3 linked regions of the Homo sapiens genome follow. The protein of the gene in region 2 interacts with the protein of the main gene of each other region in a pairwise test. Each region holds a gene or a part of one and is shown on either strand. Other genes may lie near its edges.

The links. The genes of interacting proteins can lie anywhere in the genome.
Region 1: the proteins of ZMYM2 (region 2) and PAICS interact in binary tests that used the Homo sapiens proteins (3 or more experiments, as listed by UniProt).
Region 3: the proteins of ZMYM2 (region 2) and GTF2IRD1 interact in binary tests that used the Homo sapiens proteins (3 or more experiments, as listed by UniProt).

Annotation. Positions count from the first base shown.
Region 1 is NC_000004.12:56,460,259-56,465,116, reverse strand, and holds the end of PAICS (bifunctional phosphoribosylaminoimidazole carboxylase/phosphoribosylaminoimidazole succinocarboxamide synthetase), read right to left. Parts: 3' UTR 539-4,858; downstream 1-538. UniProt on the Homo sapiens protein: Bifunctional phosphoribosylaminoimidazole carboxylase and phosphoribosylaminoimidazole succinocarboxamide synthetase catalyzing two reactions of the de novo purine biosynthetic pathway.
Region 2 is NC_000013.11:19,953,843-19,961,726, forward strand, and holds the start of ZMYM2 (zinc finger MYM-type protein 2), read left to right. Parts: upstream 1-4,884; 5' UTR 4,885-4,999; exon of another isoform or gene 5,000-5,117; intron 5,118-5,181; exon of another isoform or gene 5,182-5,293; intron 5,294-5,408; exon of another isoform or gene 5,409-5,750; intron 5,751-6,115; coding exon of another isoform or gene 6,116-6,184; intron 6,185-7,884. UniProt on the Homo sapiens protein: Involved in the negative regulation of transcription.
Region 3 is NC_000007.14:74,449,969-74,456,943, reverse strand, and holds the start of GTF2IRD1 (general transcription factor II-I repeat domain-containing protein 1), read right to left. Parts: upstream 3,039-6,975; 5' UTR 2,768-3,038; intron 2,566-2,767; exon of another isoform or gene 2,432-2,565; intron 2,423-2,431; exon of another isoform or gene 2,134-2,422; intron 1-2,133. UniProt on the Homo sapiens protein: May be a transcription regulator involved in cell-cycle progression and skeletal muscle differentiation. May repress GTF2I transcriptional functions, by preventing its nuclear residency, or by inhibiting its transcriptional activation.

The DNA of each region.
Region 1 (4,858 bases), on a different chromosome or scaffold from region 2:
TATTTCTTATGTCATTTTAATGGAGTTTTGTGGCAAACAGCCTATAAATATGGGGCTTAACCTGCCATTTTTGAAACAGGAATCTTCCAAACCATAGTGGTGTTTTGTTTTTTTTTTTTTAAATAACAAATTTACATCTCACATTGTGAAGGATGGAAAGATTGTCTGGTGAGGGGCCACTCTGATTCATAGATGGCATCTTCTGTTTTCACATGGTGGGAAAAAAACCAGACTGATCTCTTAAAGCATGTATCTGATGCCACTTTCCTACCCTCACGATAAAATCCGAACTCCAAAGAAGAGCAGTAAGAGCTTTTGTGATCTGGCCTCTGCTTGCCACCTCCCCAACTCACATAGGTCTCTATACTTATTTCCTAGCCCCCTTGCATGCTATTCACCTCTAACTTCCATGTAGTTATGTGTCCCCCTACCTCCTGGAATTTGCATTTTTATTCATCTGACAAGTGTTTGTCTTGTATATGCCAGTGCCGTGTATTACACCAGTTGCTGTGATACAGCTGACAACAAAGAAGACAGCCCAGTGTAATACATTTATTTTCTAGTTGGGAGAGATGGGTAATAAATAAACATGTACTATGTTTGGTGGTAATAAGTTTGCTGAAGAAAATTATGGAAAGGTAAGAGAGATTGAGTATAGACTGTGGAGAATTAGTCTTTTTCATTCACAGTATACAATTGTTTTCTAGAGATCAGAGTCCTTCCTACTTTTGTGTATTCACAATACCCTATTGTTAATTCCATATTAAGACTATATACGGTGTTTTGAAATTGTCTGCCTCTGGAGACTTCCAAGATTCATTGAGAGCAGAAGGTTAATTTTGTTCATCTTTGCATTCCCAGGGTCTTATATATACATAATAGGCTGTATTTGTTCTCTAAAAAATACAGAACCAATAGGATATGTACAGATTATGAGAAATTGGCTCTGCAAAATGGAGGTGAAGTCCCACAGTCTGCCTTCTGCAGGCTGAAGGCCCAGGAAAGCCAGTGTAGTTCCAAACCCGAGGGCTTGAGAATCAGGGGAGGCAATAACGTTAAGTCCTAGTCTGAAGGCCTGAGGACCAGGAGCACCAACATCTGGGGGCACGAAATGGATGTCCCAGCAGTTCACCCTTCTTCCCCTTTTTTGTTCTATTCAGGCCCTCAATGGATTAGATGACGCTCACCCACATGGGTGAAGGCAGTCTTCTTTACTCAAGTCTACTGATTCAAGTGCTAGTCTCTTCCAGAAACACCATCACAGATGTACCTAGAAATGTTGTTTGACCAGCTATCAAGGCATCCCGTAGCCTAGTCAAGTTGACAGAATTAGCCATCTCATCAGTATCCACAATGTATTTTTATATTAATGGATTTAGCCTGAGAAGCTTCCATGTACAGTATCTTTTTTTTTTTTTTTTTGGCGACAGATTTTCGCTCTTGTTGCCCAGGCTGGAGTGCAATGGTTCGATCTCAGCTCACCACAACCTCTGCCTTCCAGGTTCAAGCGATTCTCCTGCCTCAGCCTCCCGAGTAGTTGGAATTATAGGCATGCACCACCATGCCTGGCTAATTTTGTATTTTTAGTAAAGAGGGGGTTTCTCCATGTCAGTCAGGCTGGTCTTGAACTCCCGACCTCAGGTGATCTGCCCACCTCACCCTCCCAAAGTGCTGGGATTACAGGCGTGAGCCACTGCACCCAGCCTCATGTACAGTATCTTATGGTATCTTGTCAACTCAGAGGCAAGCAGAAGAAATAAGACGTGAGCCACCGCGCCCAGCCTCATGTACAGTATCTTATGGTATCTTATCAACTCAGAGGCAAGCAGAAGAAATATTTAGCTCCATTTTATAACTTGATTTCCATTCCACTATTTTCATTGTACTGCAATGTGAGATTAACAATTCCACCCCAAGTATTTGAGGTGTGGGAAGCTGGATGTAAAAACACCATTAAAAACAACTCTTTTCAATGGCTTTCTAAGGTTGGCTGGGCTGAAATGGCAGGTTGTGGATGCTCCGTGGCACATCACACTGCCCCTTTCTTCATATTAGAAATTAAATCAGCCGATGGCAATATTGAATTCCAGGTAATTTTCTTTCTTTCTTTTTTTTTGAAACAGAGTTTTGCTCTTGTTGCCCAGGCTGGAGTACAATGGCGCAACCTCGGCTCACCACAACCTCCGCTTCCCAGGTTCAAGCGATTCTCCTGCCTCAGCCTCCTGAGTCGCTGGGATTACAGGAATGTGCCACCATGCCCGGCTAGTTTTGTATTTTTATTAGAGACTGGGTTTCTCCATGTTGGTCAGGCTGGTCTCGAACTCCTGATCTCAGGTGATCCACCTGCCTCGGCCACCCAAAGTGCTGGGATTACAGGCATGAGCTACCATGCCCAGAGAATTCCAGGTAATTCTCATGGTGAATGAATTCCATTCATACTGTTGTTCTTCAGTCTGCCAAATGGATATTACATAACACATTTGTGTGCCATGATGGGCCTTACATATATTGACTCATGTAATTCTCACAACTTTATGAGGTGGTATTAGTCGCATTTTCATTTCATGAAATTGAGGCACAAAAAAATTAGACATGTTGAAGATCATACATCATCCCTCACCTGGGCTACAATAGCCTCTTAACTAATCTCTGCTTCTCCTCTTGTCCACACAACAGCCAGAGAACCTTTAAATATGTTAAGTATGTCAAGCCTCTGCTCAAACTGAGTTTTTCCTGTCACACTTCAGTGTGGCCTATAGGCCCTAAGTGATGTAGCCTTTGCTTATATTGTCTTCCACTCTCATCCTTGTTCACAGAGCTCTAGCAATTCTCATGTTTGGAGGTCCTCAAGGCAAAACTCAGCTTTATTTCCCATTCCCTTAGTATGGAAAGCTATTTCCCTATCTGTGTGTCTTGCTTTTACATCATTGCTCTGCTCTCCTCAAAAACCTTCCCCTCTTATCCCCATCACCGTCCTCATTTTGATTCTTCATATACATTTATCCTTTCCTGATTTTATACTGTTTACCTTTTTATGGTTTGTTTTCCCCTCTAAAACATAAGTTCCATCTGGACAAGGGCTTTGCTCAGTCCTATTTTCCTAGGCCCTAGAATCAAACCAGTATTGGGTGAATGGATACTGAATGAAGCTTTACCTAAGTGCTTTGTCTTTTACTTAGTTTCAGTGGTTAAATCTCAGAAAGCTTAACAGCAATTCTAAGCATGTCTTTATCATAAAAGGTTAAAAACTGTATTATTGGGATATTTTTTCTCTTTTTATGTTTACCTACAAGCCCGTAGAAAGTATAAATACTCAAAAGATAGCAGACCAGGTAGGCTTAAGTTACTTTTACAAAACAGTAGAAATACCTTCAAATATTTAGCACTGATGAACTTACTACTGAGGACATGTGGACTCTACTAAGAAACTAATGATGAAATTCATAATTGGGTGTGGTAGCACATGCACCCAGCTACTCGAGAGGCTGCAGCTTGAGTCCAGGAGTTCAAGGCTGCAGGGAGCCATAATCATGCCACTGCACTCCAGCCTGGGAGACAGTGAGAACTTGGCTCTTAAAAAAAAAAAGGAAAAAAAATTGATAACGACAATTTGTAATGGTCAGTCCTATCCACCAGTCTAAATGAAAGTTTAAAAATTTTCATATACTGCACAGAAGTAGATGGAGTCTTAATGCTAGGTAAGGGTAAACAAGCTGAAATAGCAGTCAGTGACTTCAGAGACCATGAAACCAAAGTTAATCTTCTAAGTCCTTTTAATTGTTCTTATAAACTAGCATAAGATATAAACTTAAGTAGTACACATGAGTTTTATAATTTACTAATCTCTGACAGATAGCTAAGCATAGCACATCAGAGCATAACACAGTGTGAGGGAAATAAAGTGTACAATGACATCTTCTATTCTGGACCTAATAATTCAATAGAGAAAGAACTACTTGTAGTCACTGTGGTTACAGAAGGTTTCATGGACAGCGAACATAAAGCTCTACTAGCTAACAAATAGGTCTTAATGATAAAAACGTGGGCCTTCAGAGAACTAAAGGTACCAATGTGTGGCAGTCCAAAATTACGAGGAAAATGAGTTCCCTTCATGGGTCACATCAGCAATTTTTTTTTTCCCCTTTTGAGACAGAGTCTTGCTCTGCTGCCCAGGTTGGAGTGCAGTGGCATGATCTAGGCTCACTGCAACCTCCGCCTCCCGGGTTCAAGCAATTCTCATGCCTCAGCCTCCCGAGTAGCTGGGATTACAGGTGCCTGTCATCACGGCTGGCTACTTTTTGTATTTTTAGTAGAGACAGGGTTTCACCATGTTGGCCAGGCTGGTCTCAAACTCCTGACCTCAAGTGATCTGCTTGCTTCAGCCTCCCGAAGTGCTGTGATCGTAGGTGTGAGCCACTGTGCCCAGCTACCTCATCAATTCTTAATCTATAAACCATGGATAGGCTTCGGGAGAACCCAAGAACCAATGAAATCTGTTGGTAAGTTTTATGTGTGCGGTTTTCTACAGAGAGGGTCAACAGCATGTATATTTTCAAAGAAGTCTGTGGTGCAAAAGAGAGTTTATTGTTAGAAGTCCTTGGGCAATCAACTTGGAAAAGGGTGGATTGAGAATGGGGGCTGTCTAGATCAGGATAATGTTGAATTTGACCCTCACTTGAGGCTTTTGTACAGAGGATGAGAAGACGGTAAATTCAAGGGTTAATCAGAAATTAACACCAACATGACTTGGTGATGAGTGAGATGTGAAACGTGAGAAAAACATCAATGATGAAATCAAGCTTCTGACTTGCAACAGTGAGTATACCAAGAGCTACAGGCTTGGAAGATGAATAAAGTT
Region 2 (7,884 bases):
ATGAAATGAACTTGGTGTGTTGCAACTATTATTTATTTATTTAAAAAGAAGGGCTAAAACTGTATAGACTAGATTTAAATATACTAGAATGGATAATATTAAAATGCATCTAAGACAGTGAAAGATAATTATTCCATGAATCCTGTGTTTCAGTTATATAGTCATGTACCTAGTAGGCGTTTGTACCGGGTGCTGATGTACAATGCATATCCCAGTGGTTGTCATGGTCAAAAAAAAGTTTATAAGCCACTGATCTAAAATGCATTATTTAGTGCTATGTTTAATTTTTTTTTTTTTTTTTTTTTAGACGGAGTCTCACTCTGTCGCCCAGGCTGGAGTGCGGTGGCACAATCTCGGCTCACTGCAAGCTCCGCCTTCCGGGTTCACGTCATCCTCCTGCCTCAGCCTCCCAAGTAGCTGGGACTACAGGCGCCCACCACCATGCCTGGCTAATTTTTTGTATTTTTAGTAGAGACGGGGTTTCACCGTGGTCTCGATCTCCTGACCTTGTGATCCGCCCGCCTCGGCCTCCCAAAGTGCTGGGATTACAGGCATGAGCCACCGCGCCTGGCCTGTTTAAAATTTTTTAAGATGACATGTTTAAGAGTTAAAATTTAAGAATGAAGAGAAAGCTATCTAGAGAGGCTGTATAATGAGGTGGTTAATAGCATGGATTCTGGAGCCAAGAATCCTAGGGCCAAGGAACTTCACCCTTTCTCCACAACAATAAAGCAAAATTATGGATTTTTGGTTGCTATAATACCAAACATCATTCAGTATAAGCAAATTATAAATGTCAACTTAAAACTAACAATTTTTATTTAAAATTCTTATTTTTGAATCCTATGAGAAGCATCCTACCCAGGAGTACTATGTTTATATATCAATAAGTAATATTAAACTTGTTTCAGTCTTTGTTCCTTCTTTCATAGAAAATTTTCTTCAGTGTTTCCATTGTTAAAATATTGTTGTTTTTTTTTTCTTTTTGAGACAGGGTCTCACTCTTTGCCCAGGCTGGAGTGCAGTGACACAATCTTAGCTCAATACAACCTCTGCCTGCCGGGTTCAAGCAACTCTCCCACCTTAGCCTCCTGAGTAGCTGGGACTACAAGCATGCACCACGCTGCCCGGCTAGTTTTTGTATTTTTTGGTAGAGATGGGGTTTTACCATGTTGGCCAGGATGGTCTCAAACTCCCGATCTCAAGTGATCCACCTGCCTTGGCCTCCCAAAGTGCTGGGATTACAGACATGAGCCACTGCGCCCGGCCCCAAGACTACTTGATTTAGTTACTGCAATTATTATTATTATTATTATTATTATTATTTGGATTATGCGGTAGCATAGTATTGGTGGTAGAGATATCAATATGGTCCTAGTAGAATATTATAATTTTTTTCTAATATTTCATTGAGTCAAGTATGAATGATAAAAACAACTAAAATTTACTGAGGTCTATATTAAGTGAGGTGCAAGGTGCAAGTTTTATACATGTATGCTCGTTTCACCCCCTAAAAAACTCTATGAAAGAGGAATTATTATCTACATTTCACACATGATGAAACGATCAGAGGCTTAGAGAAGCTTACACATGACTAAAAGCATCTAGCTAGTTGCTAGTTGTGGGTAATGCCAGAATTCAGATGGGGGCAGTCTGGCTCTTTAAGCTGTGCTCAGAGTCAGTTTTACTACATCTCAATTAACGGTGAGCTCTTGGTCTTCGAAATGCAATTAAACCTAACACTTTTATATCACTTTCACAGAAGTTACTTGGTCCTTATAACAACTCTTTTTTTTTGAGATGGAGTCTTGCTCTGTTGCCCAGGCTGGAGTGCAGTGGTGCGCTCTCGGCTCACTGCAACCTCCGCCTCCTGGGTTCAAGCGATTCTCCTGCCTCAGCCTCCTGAGTAGCTGGTACTACAGGCGGGTGCCACCATGCCCAGCCACAACAACTGTTTATTACTTTACTTTACAAATAAGGAAATGGACTCAGAGAGAAGGTAAGTTTCTGAGGTTTTGAGTGGCCAGATATTTGAAATACAAGTCTTTTGCTCACGTCTTGCAGCTGCCTCTTGGATGTCTGGTATGCTTTTTGACAGGTACAGAATAGATTAATACACACACACACAGTTTTAGTTGTGGATTTATTGAGATATAATTGACATATCATGCAATTCACACATTTAAGGTATGCTGTTCAGAGGTTTTTAGCACATTCACAGTTGTGCAATCATTTCAGTCAATTTTAGAACACTTGAGTCACTCCATTAAAAAACCTCGTAACTTTTAGCTACCATTTTCTACTCCCCACTTCTCCAGTTCTGGGCAACCAGTAATCTACTTTCTGTCTCTACAGATTTGCCTATTATAGACATTTCTCGTAAATGGAATAAAATATTCAGTGGTCTTTTGTGTCTTGTTTATTCACTTAGCATAATGTCTTTAAGGTTTGTCCATGTTGTAGTGTATATCAGAACTTCACTCCTCTTTAGGTCTGAATAATATTCCATTGTATGGATGTACCACATTTTGTTTATCCATTCATCAGTTGATGGACATTTCAGGGATGTTGGAAATTATGAATAATGCTGTTATGAACATTCAAACATTTATTTTTAAAATTACTTTTATGTAAAATTGTCTGCTTTTTAACATTATGACAAATACTTTCTTCCCAGTTCTAAATTCTCAACGAAAAATTCTCCCTGATATCAGACCAGCAAACCAATGAACAGTTGCATGGACAGATGTACCTGAATGAATTTAAAAAGTAAATAATAAATACTATAATTAGCACAGTTGCTCATTAGTTATATAAAACAGCAATAACACTAGGGAATTAGTAGCAGTATAGAGCTCCAACTGAACAGTACGTGGCAACCCAATCTATCATTTATCACAGAGCTTATTTGGAAGTATTAGTCTACTTTAGTCTTCTAAATGTAAATTCAATGAGCTGAAGCTACTTCAATAGGACCTGGCAGCAGAAAAGGAATGATGTAAGTTTTCACCAAATTATTACAATTTGGTAGTAGAGGATGTTTGTTTTGATGATAGTGGCTGTTTTTGTTGTGATGTTTCTGTTGTGATGATAGTTTTTCAGTCTAAACCAGTACTGTGTAATATGAAATCTTAAGAGGCTATTTTAGTGTATTTAAAACTAAAAAATTTTAGTTACAAAGTTTCCTAAAAATTAGTGATACTTTTTGAAAAGCTGGTTCAAGTACATTTTATTAATTTTTTTCAATAAAAGAGAACAGTGTATTCAAGGTATTTAGTACAAGGTGGAAAGCCTACTTGATTTATTTTTTTTAATGAGTGAATGAATTCAACTTCTACTAGATTATCCTCTGTAAGTTGCGTCTATTAGTTTACACATCAGTCTTTCACGGGTGATTAACCTCACTAAAAACTTCATGTTCATCAATATTGTGTTGAACTTGAAACTGTATTATCATATATGTTTATTAATAGGCAATGGTGTCAGATAATCGTGAAATTGAGAAGTCGCCCATCCATTTGGGTGGGAAAATAACCAACATCCTCAGTTGTAATCCCACTAAGAACCGCCAGGGCGAGACGAAAGCGACATCGCTTCCATCTTTACGTGAGTCTTGGAAATGGTTCAGCACCATGACGTCCGCCGAAGACGTAGGTGTAGACGAGGAACAAAAGAGAAGACCCCTCGTGGAGGTGGCCTGTGGGGCCCGCCCTCCTCGGGCGCCTGTCGTCGTCTGTCCCTGACTCCGCTCCCCCCGGCGGCCGCAGCGAGTGCGCCCCGCGATGCAGCGGGCTGTGGAGGGAGCCTCCATGGAGTCTCCATCAACCATTGAGGACCAGGAGACGGTGGCAGGCGGTAGAGAGGCCTGGGCAGGGCCAGCGCCCCGGGCTGCGGAGCACAGGACGGCGGCGCCCAAGGACGCCCCAGGGCAGGCCTCAGCCCCTCCAACCGGTGGGAGCCCAGCTCCAGGGGAGCCCGCAGCTCCCTCCATCTTGGTTGATGGAGGCGGGGAGCTGCGTCTGGGTCTCTCCACCGTCGTGCCCGTCCCCTGTGGCCCCGCGGACGCAGACGCCAGCAGCCGGGGTTGTTCCCTTGGCCGAATGGCAGAGTCCAGTTGGGGCTTCCCGAGGACAAGTTTCCCGGCCCCACGGGGTTTGGTTTTTAGGGGGTCCCAAGTTCCCACAGTCGTTCCGACAAAATGGAGGACGTCGTCTCCTCCTGCTGCAGCCATGGCGGGAGGTGGGGGACTATTCCCCACGGGGCGCGGCGAGGGTGGAAGGGCCTCCACTGCCCCCAGCGCGGTCGGGATTCCAGTTCACCCGCGGTCCCGAAAGCCCACTCGGACCCGCTCCAGCGCCTCCCCGGCCTCGCCCCTCGCAGGGGCCTTCAAGCAACTGGACAGGGAGGGCGTTGGGGCATCGAGGCCGCGGCTCTCCTCGGGCAGAGGCGTTGGGAGCCGCTGCCGCGGCCTGGGCGCCCGGGCTCGGGCGAGGGCAGGCGGCCCCGCCGGAGTCTCCCGGGCTGTGTAGGTCCCGGAGAGCCCCGGGCCCCGAGGAGCCGAAGCGGGTTCGGTACGGCGGGCAGCGAATCTCGGGCTCCTGACCCTGGCAGACCCGGTGGGTGGGGGCGGGGGACCGGCGGGGAGGGGACCCGGCCAGGAGTCGAGGGCCGGCGGAGGCGGGAGTGGAACGGCAGGGCCGGGGGAGTGGCCCGCACCTGACGGACAGCCCTTCGGACCACCCTACCGAGGGGGGGCCCTGAAGGACGGCCGTCGGAGCCAATGGGCGTGCCCGAAGCGCTCCGGCCAGCCTTCCCCGTCAGCCAATGAGCGCGCGGAGGGCGGGGCCTCCCCGGGCTCGGCCGCGCCGCCGCCTCCTCCGCCTCCTCCTCCTCACCAGCGCTAAAGCCGGGACTGGACCGAGCGGAGTTGTGCGTGTCGCCGAAGGGGGGTGGGCCGGGGGAGGGGAGGTTCGTTCCGCGGAGCCCCAGCCAGAACCGGGTGAGGCTTATCCCCGCTGTCTTTCCAGTCCAGGGCCGCCGAGAGTGGGGGTGGCTGGGAGCAGCGCAGCCTCCGGAGGAGGAGGCGGAGGCGGAGGCGACTAGGGAGGCGGAGATGGGTGAGGGCAGCCTCCGGAGCCTCCCACCGACCCGGGATTAATACCCCGCGGCGCGGCCGCCGTCGCCGCTGCCGCGTCGGGGCCTCGGGGGCAGCTCGGGGCTGCGCTCATGTCACAGGCGCCTTTGCGTGCGGCCCGAGGGGCTGGGAGAGTGCGGGCGAGGCCGGGAGGGCTGGGTGAGGCGGCCGCCAGCGGCGGGGGTCGCGGGGCCGGCGGGGCGGCGGGACGGCGGGACGGCGGGGCGGGGGTGCCGGCCGCCCGGGGAGGTCGCGGGGCATTTTCCTTTCTCTCCGGCGGGGGGCGGGGGAGGGGCGCCCCGGCTGGGTCTCCGCTCTCGGGGCAGCGCTCCCACCCTGTCCACCGGAGCCGAGGTCCCCAAGTTTTTCGGGGTGAGGGCTGCTGCCTCTGCTCCGCCGGGTCCCCTCCTTCGCTCTTCTTTTCCTCGGCGCTGCGCTGCGCGGCTCTTGCTCCGCACGTATTGTTTGGCTGGGTCTCTAATGGCGGACGGGGAGGCAGCGCTGCCGGTCGCCGACTGCAGGGGGGGGCAAACCTCAGGCCCAGGGCAACTGCTTGGGGCAAATGTGGGCGATATCGGCCCAGCAGTGACGTGAGCCGCCCCTTACCTCTGAATTGGTACTTGGAGTGACGGGGATGACGCTGGGTGGGCAAATTTAGGAGGGAATACAAATCCCTTGCTGGCGTCGAGGCAACGTTTTCCCTTCCCCCCTCCCTTCCCGGGAGCAGGCTCGGTGTCCTTAGGCCCCCTCCCTTCCAGATTTTGCCTTTCACATGGGTTTTGGCCCCAAATATGTATTTTGCGCTGTTTTGCCCCACTTACGCAGGAGGGGGCTGTTGTGCGCATGGTGGGGGTAATAATAGAAGGACCGAACCTCCTTGACCTCTTATTCCCTTCTCTGCCTCCTTCTGGCAGAAAGGGTTGGGTTCTCCCACCAGGTTGTGTGTTTTTGATACATTTTTCTTTTTTCCTCCTATCCCAGGACCAAGAATCGCCTTCAGCCCTGTCTGGTGCATCCTTGGCAGAAAGTGAGGAGGAAAACACCCCCATTGTGAGTCCTTTGCCCCTAATTTGTTGCTAATAGAGGACATTGTCAGGTTGTAGGGGTTAAGCTATGGGACCTGGCCCTCCCCGTTGTTTTGAGGGGGAGGAGCTTTCCCTTGGGTGGCAGCTGCCCCCAGGGCGAAGCCTGGGTAATGGCTGGTGAGGCAGCTGGGAGTGGGCGCTGCTGTTTCCACCGCTGCAGACATCGCTCCTGCTGCTGCAATACCAACCTCAGCAACCAGACGACGGGCTTCTGCAGCTGCTCACGTTACCCGGGAGGAGGGGTGGTGCGAAGGAGGGCATATTTCTGGTGCCCTCTAGAGTTCCAAAATGGGAATTAAAGTTATTTCTTGTTGAATGCTGTGCATGCAACCTGAACATTTTTTCTTCCTTAAACAATGGCTAATTGATTGAAGGAATTGGAAACATAGAAATAATCATTTATATTTTTGTTTATGTCTGCTGGAAACACATATTTTGACACTTATGGCTCATGAGTTGCTAGATCTTTTTCATGTATTTGCTTAGGAAAGGGAGTCAACTCCTCTAGTACTATCTTGTTCACCAAGTAGTATGCTGATCAGTCCAGTGTACTGATCTAGTTAATTTCTTCGTTCCCCATCTTCCATGTTGATCATCTTTAACTTAACGATCATTTTTGAATGTGTTACCAGAGAATTATTTAATTTGTTGGTTTTAAGGCAACTATGTAATGTGCTAGAGAGGAAGATGAAGATAGCCAGTCATATTTTCCTTCAGGCAATTGAAACTAAAAGTATCTGAAGTCAGCACTCTGGACACATTATGTCTCTGGAGCCCATTGACAGTTGATGTGGTAACTTGTAGATCTCTGTCAGAGTCAGAGATGAGTTATTTACGCTTAAGTATTCAGTCCACATGGTTCAAAAAATAGTGAATTGATAAGCATTTGCTGAATATACATTGTGAAGGATGATGTGAGAATAGTAACTTACATTAAATATACACCGTTCTAGGCACAGTCCAGGACACTTTCCTTTAATCTTAGCAAGTAGCCCACAGGGTAATACCTATGGCGTGTATTGAGCCCTTATTGTATGCTAGCCCAATTCTAAGGTTTTTTTTTTTTTTTTAAGTTTATTATGGAAACTTTAAATTTTACTAGTAAGAATAGTGTACTGAACCTCCATGTACCCATCATTCACATTCTAAAATTATCAATACGTGCCCACACTAGTTTTTAACATGTGTTAAGTAATTTAATTATCACGAAAACCCAGTGATGTTGATAACCACAGTTATCAATTAGATTTTTATACTGCCTTGTTTCAAAACTAACGGGCTGTTTGGATCAGAATTAACATAGTCTCTTTTTCAATATGTCTGTACAATTTACAGTCTGTAATTGTTTTCTAAATATTGCTAACTTGAATGAATATAACATCTCTAATGAGTTTGAAGTTCATCTCAGGCATCAGATCATTCAATAATGAATCAAGGGTTAGATCTTTCAAATAGATGGATGATGCTTATCGCCACATATTTTCACAAAAGATTTATCTTTCTAGGATTTTTTTTCTTTGTTCTTAGTTATGTTGATAGGGGAAGCTTGATAATTGGTTGTGTTTAGTAGATATTTGGAGATGAGGAACATAAAAAATGCAAAATCAGTACTTTTCTGTAATGTCAACATATGTATACTAACGGAAAGCAGTGCTGCTTTTACGT
Region 3 (6,975 bases), on a different chromosome or scaffold from region 2:
TGAGGACGAGGAAGTCTTCAGCCCAAAGATACCACAGCCAAGCCAAGTCCTGAAGGAGAGGAAAAGAGGCAAATTCTATAATCCTGACCCCCTACCCTAGCCAGGCAGGGCTAATAAAGGAAGCCCCCCAGCCTCCTCAGGGGAAAGGCCAAGAAGAACCTTCGAGAGAAGAGGAACTGTGTGTGCAGAGGCCAGGGGTAGGAGGAAGCCAGGCCATTCAGGAAAACGGCAAGACTACAGAATTTTTTCTTTTTTTTTTTTTAGATGGAGTCTTGCTCTGTTGCCCAGGCTGGAGTACAGTGGTGCGGTCTTGGCTCACTGCAACCTCCACCTCCCGGGTTCAAGCGATTCTCCTGCCTCAGCCTCCCGAGCAGCTGGGATTACAGATGCCTGCCACCACGCCTGGCTAATTTTTTGTATTTTTAGTAGAGATGGGGTTTCACCATGTTGGCCAGGCTGGTCTTGAACTCCTGACCTCGTGATCCACCCACCTCGGCCTCCCAAAGTGCTGGGATTACAGGCGTGAGCCACTGCGCCCGGCCAGACTACAGGATTTATGAGTCGGCTGAGGAAGCAGTGAGTGGTCAGAGACTAGACCCTGAATGAGAATCATCTGGGAGCTGCAGTCTATGGTTCCAAGGTCATGCTTAGGACGTGAATGTCCCAAGCCATCACCCACCATCCACAAGACCCCAGGTCCAACAACCAAGCTGTCACCAAACCGTGGATGGCCTGGCCTCTGGAGTCAAGCAGGCTGCAAAAACAGCTACCTCCAAGACCCTAGATTACAGCTGCCACTCAGACTATTGCCAAACACCAAGTGCTGACGACTACCACCTCATCAGAAGGCTAGCCGGGCTCCTGGGAGGCTGCCTTCAATGAACAGATAAAAATTATTTGTGATTAGCATACTGCAAATAAATGACCCTTCTCCCAACATCGAGAGAACAGTCCTTTTAAGTAGGTTTAGCGTGCCCCCTACAAAGCTGTCTTCAAGACCCAGTTTTACAACCATCGGCCTTAAGTTCTCGAACATTTTAAGAGTGCAGGCTCTGAGTGGCTGCGGAGTTTCAACCCTTCCTTCCTAGTTTCCTCTGTGGGGTCCTGTGGGACCCTCTGAGTTAGAACTGCCAATTTCTAGGTCACCCTCAGAACAGGCTGTGGAAGAACGAGGTGTGGACTTGAGCCTCCCACACCCCAGAGGCAGGATGGGGGTTCCGATACCCTGTCACCTTGGGGCCAAGCCTGTCCCTTGGTCCGCAGATGCCTGCTCAGAAGAGGTCAGAGTCTATCTCACACCCTCCTGGGCCCCAAATAGGGCGGTTCATGACGGCCACCTAACTACCTTATACCTAGCCCCTCCCTGCCAGCAGCCACCAGCCTCCAGCCACCTCCTCCTGCTTAGAATAAATAATCGATGCTGGTGCCCTTCCCCTCTGGAATGACACTGCTGAAATAAATGAGCTGCTTGGGGCACCTTCCAAGTCCCAAGGCCCCGGGCCAGTGCCAAGGAGTCAACAGTCCTGGCCACGGGGCAGCCAGACACACAGAGGCCGACCATGGCAGCGGCGCGCCAGGGTGGCTTCTAGACACCCCTCTCCTCTTCTAAGAGAAACCCCAGCAAATGCCCACTTCTCCAAAAACTGCGGGGGCCTGCCCTCCACTCCCACCCGCCAGGCCCAGGGCCATCCCGGGGTACCCCTTGGCACATTCTCCATCCAAGAGTCAGTGCTCCCCTCACAGGCCCTGCAGCGAGACCCCTATGTCCCAGCACCCTCGCTTCAGCTGGGATGGGGACACAGGAGACTCCCACCGCAGGACCTTGGTCCTGGGAGGTAGGGTCACTAGGCCAGACGCCAGAGCTCCAGCCCCCTCCAGCACTGCCAGGAGGGTGGAACGAACTCTCAGCGGCACAGCGGCCCCCTTCCCTGGGCCCACGCCAGGCGAGGCAGGGTCTCACTCCCTGGCTGCTGGCCAGGGGTGAGGAGCCCAGGAGAGGTGTCAAGCCCATCATGCCCAGGGTACTTAGGATGGGGCGGGTGGGTGTTCAGCACCCTGTGGCCCCTCCTCTGTCCTCTCCACCCATCTGCAGGAACTCAGAGACCACCCACAGACCGAGTATCCCCAACTTACTCCTCTGAACCCTTTGTGGTCCCCCCACTGCCACCTTCTGAGTCCCCTCCACCCGGGATTCAGCGGCCACCACCACACAGGCCAGCCCCCTCCCCGGGGCCGGGGCGGGGGGTCCACTACAGGAACCACCCTGCTGGGGCAATCCTGGCTGGACTGGACTCCGCCTGGGAGTTGGGGGCGCGGGCCAGGGGCTGGCCCAGACCGGGAGAAGGTGGAGGGGGGAAAGGCGGGGACCGCGGCCTTCCCAGCCCCCTCTGCTCCCACCCCGGCGCCCGCCACCGCGGGCAGCGCGACTGACCTCATTCGCCAACTGCAGCAGCCTGCGGGCGCCGGCCCGGGACGCCCCCCACCTCCAGAAGAGCCGGTGGCAAGGAGGGAGGGGGTGACAGCTCCCAGCTCCCGGCCCCTCCCGGGCAGGTGGGGGGCGGCCGTCCCTCCCCTCCCCCCGGGCCCGAATTATAATCCCAGTCACGTGCCTCCCCGGGCACCCAAAAGCCGGCCCCAGCTCCTGTAACACCTTGAGAGGGGGAGGGGCGGGGACCCCCCCCCCCGGAGGCGGAGGGGATCGGGGGCGGGGGTGGGGGAGAAGGGGAGAAGGGCCTCGGTGCCCGCCCCCCGCAAAAGTTTCTCCTACCTTGGAGGATCCCCAAGCGCTCCTGCCAGCGGCGCCCCGGCCCCGGCCCGCGGCCAGGACTCAGCCTCCTGCCGCTGCCTCCTTAATTAATCCGGGAGAATGGGGGAAGGAGAGGCAGAGGGAGGCGAGGACGGCGGCGCGGCGAGGGCGGGGAGGGAGGCGCGGGGAGGGGGCGCGGGGGGGGAATCGGCCGGCCGGGGGGCTGGCGCTCGGCGGCCCCCACCCCCGGCGCGGGCTGCGGCGGAGGGCGGGGCGGCGCGGGGAGAGGAGCGGAGAGCGGGAGCGCGGGGAGGCTCTTTGTTCTGTAATCCCAGTAAGATTGCCAGCCATTCGCCCCGGCCCTAATCCCAGCCCCGCGCAACACCACCCTCCATTGGCTGCCATTTACATACGGGATTAGCCCGCCCCGCGCCCCGCGCCCCTGCGCACCCCCCTTGCTACCCAGCGCCCCTGCGTCCCGGGGACCTGGGCACCGCGGTGGGGAGAGCGCGCCGCACCCCTCGGCCCCGGACCTGCGGGGAGGGGCGGTGGCGCCCTCGGTTCTCCCCCACCAGCGCCGGATTAGAAAAGCCTGGGCGCGCCCCCGTCTACCCCCACCGCTCCCCACCACCACTGGGAGAGCAGCCGGGCGCAGGGGGCTGAAGTTGGAGGGTCAAGGTCACCCAGCTGGAACGCGCGGAGGCCCTGAGTGTCCCGGCTGGTCACTCCCGCCTGGCCCGGGTTCTAGTCCTAAGGCTTGGGCCAGGTACCTCTTACTCTTACAGCCTTTGTCCCCCTCCCACCCCTGAGATGTGCAGGAAGGCAGTGACAGGCCGAAAGTCGCAGCAGAGCCAACTGGACTCTTGGTCCCATCTTGTCTGATGGGACCTCCCTCTGATAGGCTTTTACCCCTGTCCCCCCAACCAGCCCCCCCGCCCCCCGCCCGCCCCGCTCCCACCAACCACACACACACCACAGCAGCGCTCCTACTGAATCAGTGCGCACGCCTCCCATCCGGCCCCAAAGCCATAAATCCTAATTCAGCACAAGGAACACAGTCCTTCCCCCACGTGGTGCCCTGATCCCTGAACTAGACCTTGGCTAGACTGGGCATGGCAGGGAGGGAGGGACTCACCCCAGGCAGGCCCCAACCCCAGGGAGCTTCTGGCTTAGAAGGACAGCCAAACATAGATCGAGAATCTCCCAGGTCCTGGCAAAACCCACAAGGTCTCCCCACAGCCTCCTGGCCAAACTGCCTTTGCAAAGATTAGGACAGTGACAGAAGTTTAGCGTGGCTGACTCCATCTTGCTTCCAGCCTCACGCGCTGGCTGTCTTCACTCATTCCGGGGCATAGGCCAAGCTAACCGGGGGAGGAATTTAGTTTATAGTTCAACTTTGAAACAAGGATGATAATAGTTACTCCTTAAACCTAACCTGCTTTTTATACAAGAGACCAAAACCACCTTTGTAAAACTAACGAAAGGCCGTGAGATTAGGATTATGGGAGGGGCCTGGACGCTGCTAAAACCTACGCATCGTTTTTATAATCTGACTGCTCAGGAGTCATGTGGCGAGAGATCACAAGATTTGTGAGTTCCCCACTTCCTCCTATAGATAGCATCTCTATTGTGGAAACTGAGATTGGTCTTTGGAGATGTTTTTCAGACTTTCGCATTCGGGCAACCGACTGACTCACCTGGACCTGTGTGACTCATGACTCAGCCCATCCTGTGGCCCCCACTCAGAGACCGACTCAGTGCATAAGGACCGTTTGCCACACCCCTGTGATTTCATCTCCAACCAATCAGCAGTACCCATTCCCTGGGCCCTTGCCCACCAAATTATCCATAAAAACCCTAGCCTCTGAGTTCTTGGGGAGATTTATTTGAGTAATAACTCCAGTCCTACTGCTTGGCTAGCTCTGCATTAATAAGACGCTTTTGGCTGGGCTCAGTGGCTCATGCCTGTAATCCCAGCACTTTGGGAGGCGAAGGTGGGTGGATTGCTTGAGGTCAGGAGTTCAAGACCAGCATGGCCAACACAGCGAAACCTGGTCACTAAAAATACAAAAATTAGCCGGGTGTGGTGGTGCATGCCTGTAATCCCAGCTACTCAGAAGGCTGACGCATGAGAATCACTGGAACCCAGGAGGTGGAGGCTGCAGTGAGCCAAGATTCAGCCACTGCACTCCAGCCTGGGTGACAGAGTGAGACTGTGTTTCAAAAATTAGGCCAGGCACGGTGGCTCATGCCTGTAATCCTAACACTTTGGGAGGCCGAGGCAGGTGGATCACTTGAGGTCAGGCATTCAAGATCAGCCTGGCCAACATGGTGAAACCCTGTCTCTACTAAAAACACAAAAATTAGCCGGGCGTGGTGGCAGGCACCTGTGATCCCAGCTGCTTAGGAGGCTGAGGCATAAGAATCGCTTGAACCTGGGAGGCGGAGGTTGCAGTGAGCCAAGATCGCACCACTGCACTCCAGCCTGGGCGACAGAGTAAGACTGTCTAAAAAATTTTAAAAATTAAGAAACATAAAACTATTTCTCGCTGTAATACCATGGTCTCAGTGAATTCTTCCTGTGCAGCGGCAGGAACACCCGTCAGACAATTACACTGGGGTCTCTTCTGGACACACACCAGGAACTTGGTGAGGGTTAACTTTGGCTGACCAGGTCTCCTATAGGAAACCCACAAACCCATCAGACTGAGAGCTCCTCCCAGGCAGGCCACATCTGCAGTGCCCAGCACAAGGCAGGGCGCAGAGGGGCCCTCATGCCCACAGAGGATGTTGGGCCATGTCAGGGTTGGGAATGAAGTCACCAATGCTCCCTCCATCCTTCACCACCCTCCTGTTGTAAGGAGGTCTGGGACATCTCAAGGCACCCTCCTGTGTGGCCCTCTGAGACCCAGGTCGTCTCCCACCCTGCCTCTTTCTCTTTTTCTTTTCTTTTTTTTTTTTTGAGACGGAGCCTTGCCCTGTCACCCAAGCTGGAGTGCAATGGCATGATCTCGGCTCACTGCAACCTCCGCCTCCCAGTTTCAAGCGATTCTCCTGCCTCAGCCTGCCGAGTAGCTGGGATCACAGGCACGCGCCACCACGCTGGGCTAATTTATTTTTTAATCTTTAGTATAGACAGGGTTTCACCATGTTGGCCAGGCTGGTCTCAAACTCCTGACCTCGTGATCCGCCCGCCTCGGCCTCCCAAAGTGCTGGGATTACAGGTGTGAGCCACCGCACCTGGCCCCTGCCTCTTTGTCTAATCACCTGCATGACCTTGAGCAAGTCAGTTTTCCTCTGTGAGTCTCCACTTCCCTCCTCCTGCAGCTTCTCATTGGACCACAGTGTGGCCCCCATGGTAGATAACACTGGTGATTGGCCCCTGCTTGTCAAGCATCTCCTAGGTGCTGGGTTGGTTGCATTTAAGTTCTCTAAGCCTTGCGCTAAGCCTGCCAGGTGGGTACTATTGGCCTCATGTTACAGTGGGGTAAAGTCACGTACTTAAAGACATGCAGCCCTGGCCGGGCGCAGTGGCTCATGCCTGTAATCCCAGCACTTTGGGAGGCCGAGGTGGGTGGATCACCTGAGGTCAGGAGTTCGAGACCAGCCTGGCCAACATGGCAAAACCCCGTCTCTACTAAAAATACAAAAAAATTAGCTGGGTGTGGTGGTGCACACCTGTAGTCCCAGCTACTTAGGAGGCTGAGGCAGGAGGATTGCTTGAGCCCAGGAGTTGGAGGCTGCAATGAACTATGATTGTGCCACTGCACTCCAGTCTGGGTGACAGAGTGAGACTCTGTCTCCCCACCCCATCAAAAAAAAAAAACAAAACAAAAAAACAAAAACATGTGGCCCTGTGAGTGGAGCTGCTGGGTCTGGGCGAAAGGATAGAGCTGCCGCGCACTGACTCGTGGTACCCCCATGATGTCTGCACCGGCCCGTGCAGTGTCAGGGCTAGGGCATGCCCTCCGTGGGCCCAGTTGGTTTGAAGGCCGAATGTTTCCCTGACCCCAAGTCCTACACCCCAGGGCTTGGAGGAACTGAGGCTTGGTAGGGAAGCATCAGTGTATGCTCAATACTGCCCTCTGCAGGTAGAATCTGGAACAGGGGTGATTCAAGGGGCGTGCTCCCTGCAGCCTCTGGGAGACCTCTCTGCTCCCTGAGAGCCAAACAGCCAGCATGACCCCAGCCTCACCCAGGCAGAGAGCAGGTGGCAGTGTGGTACAACA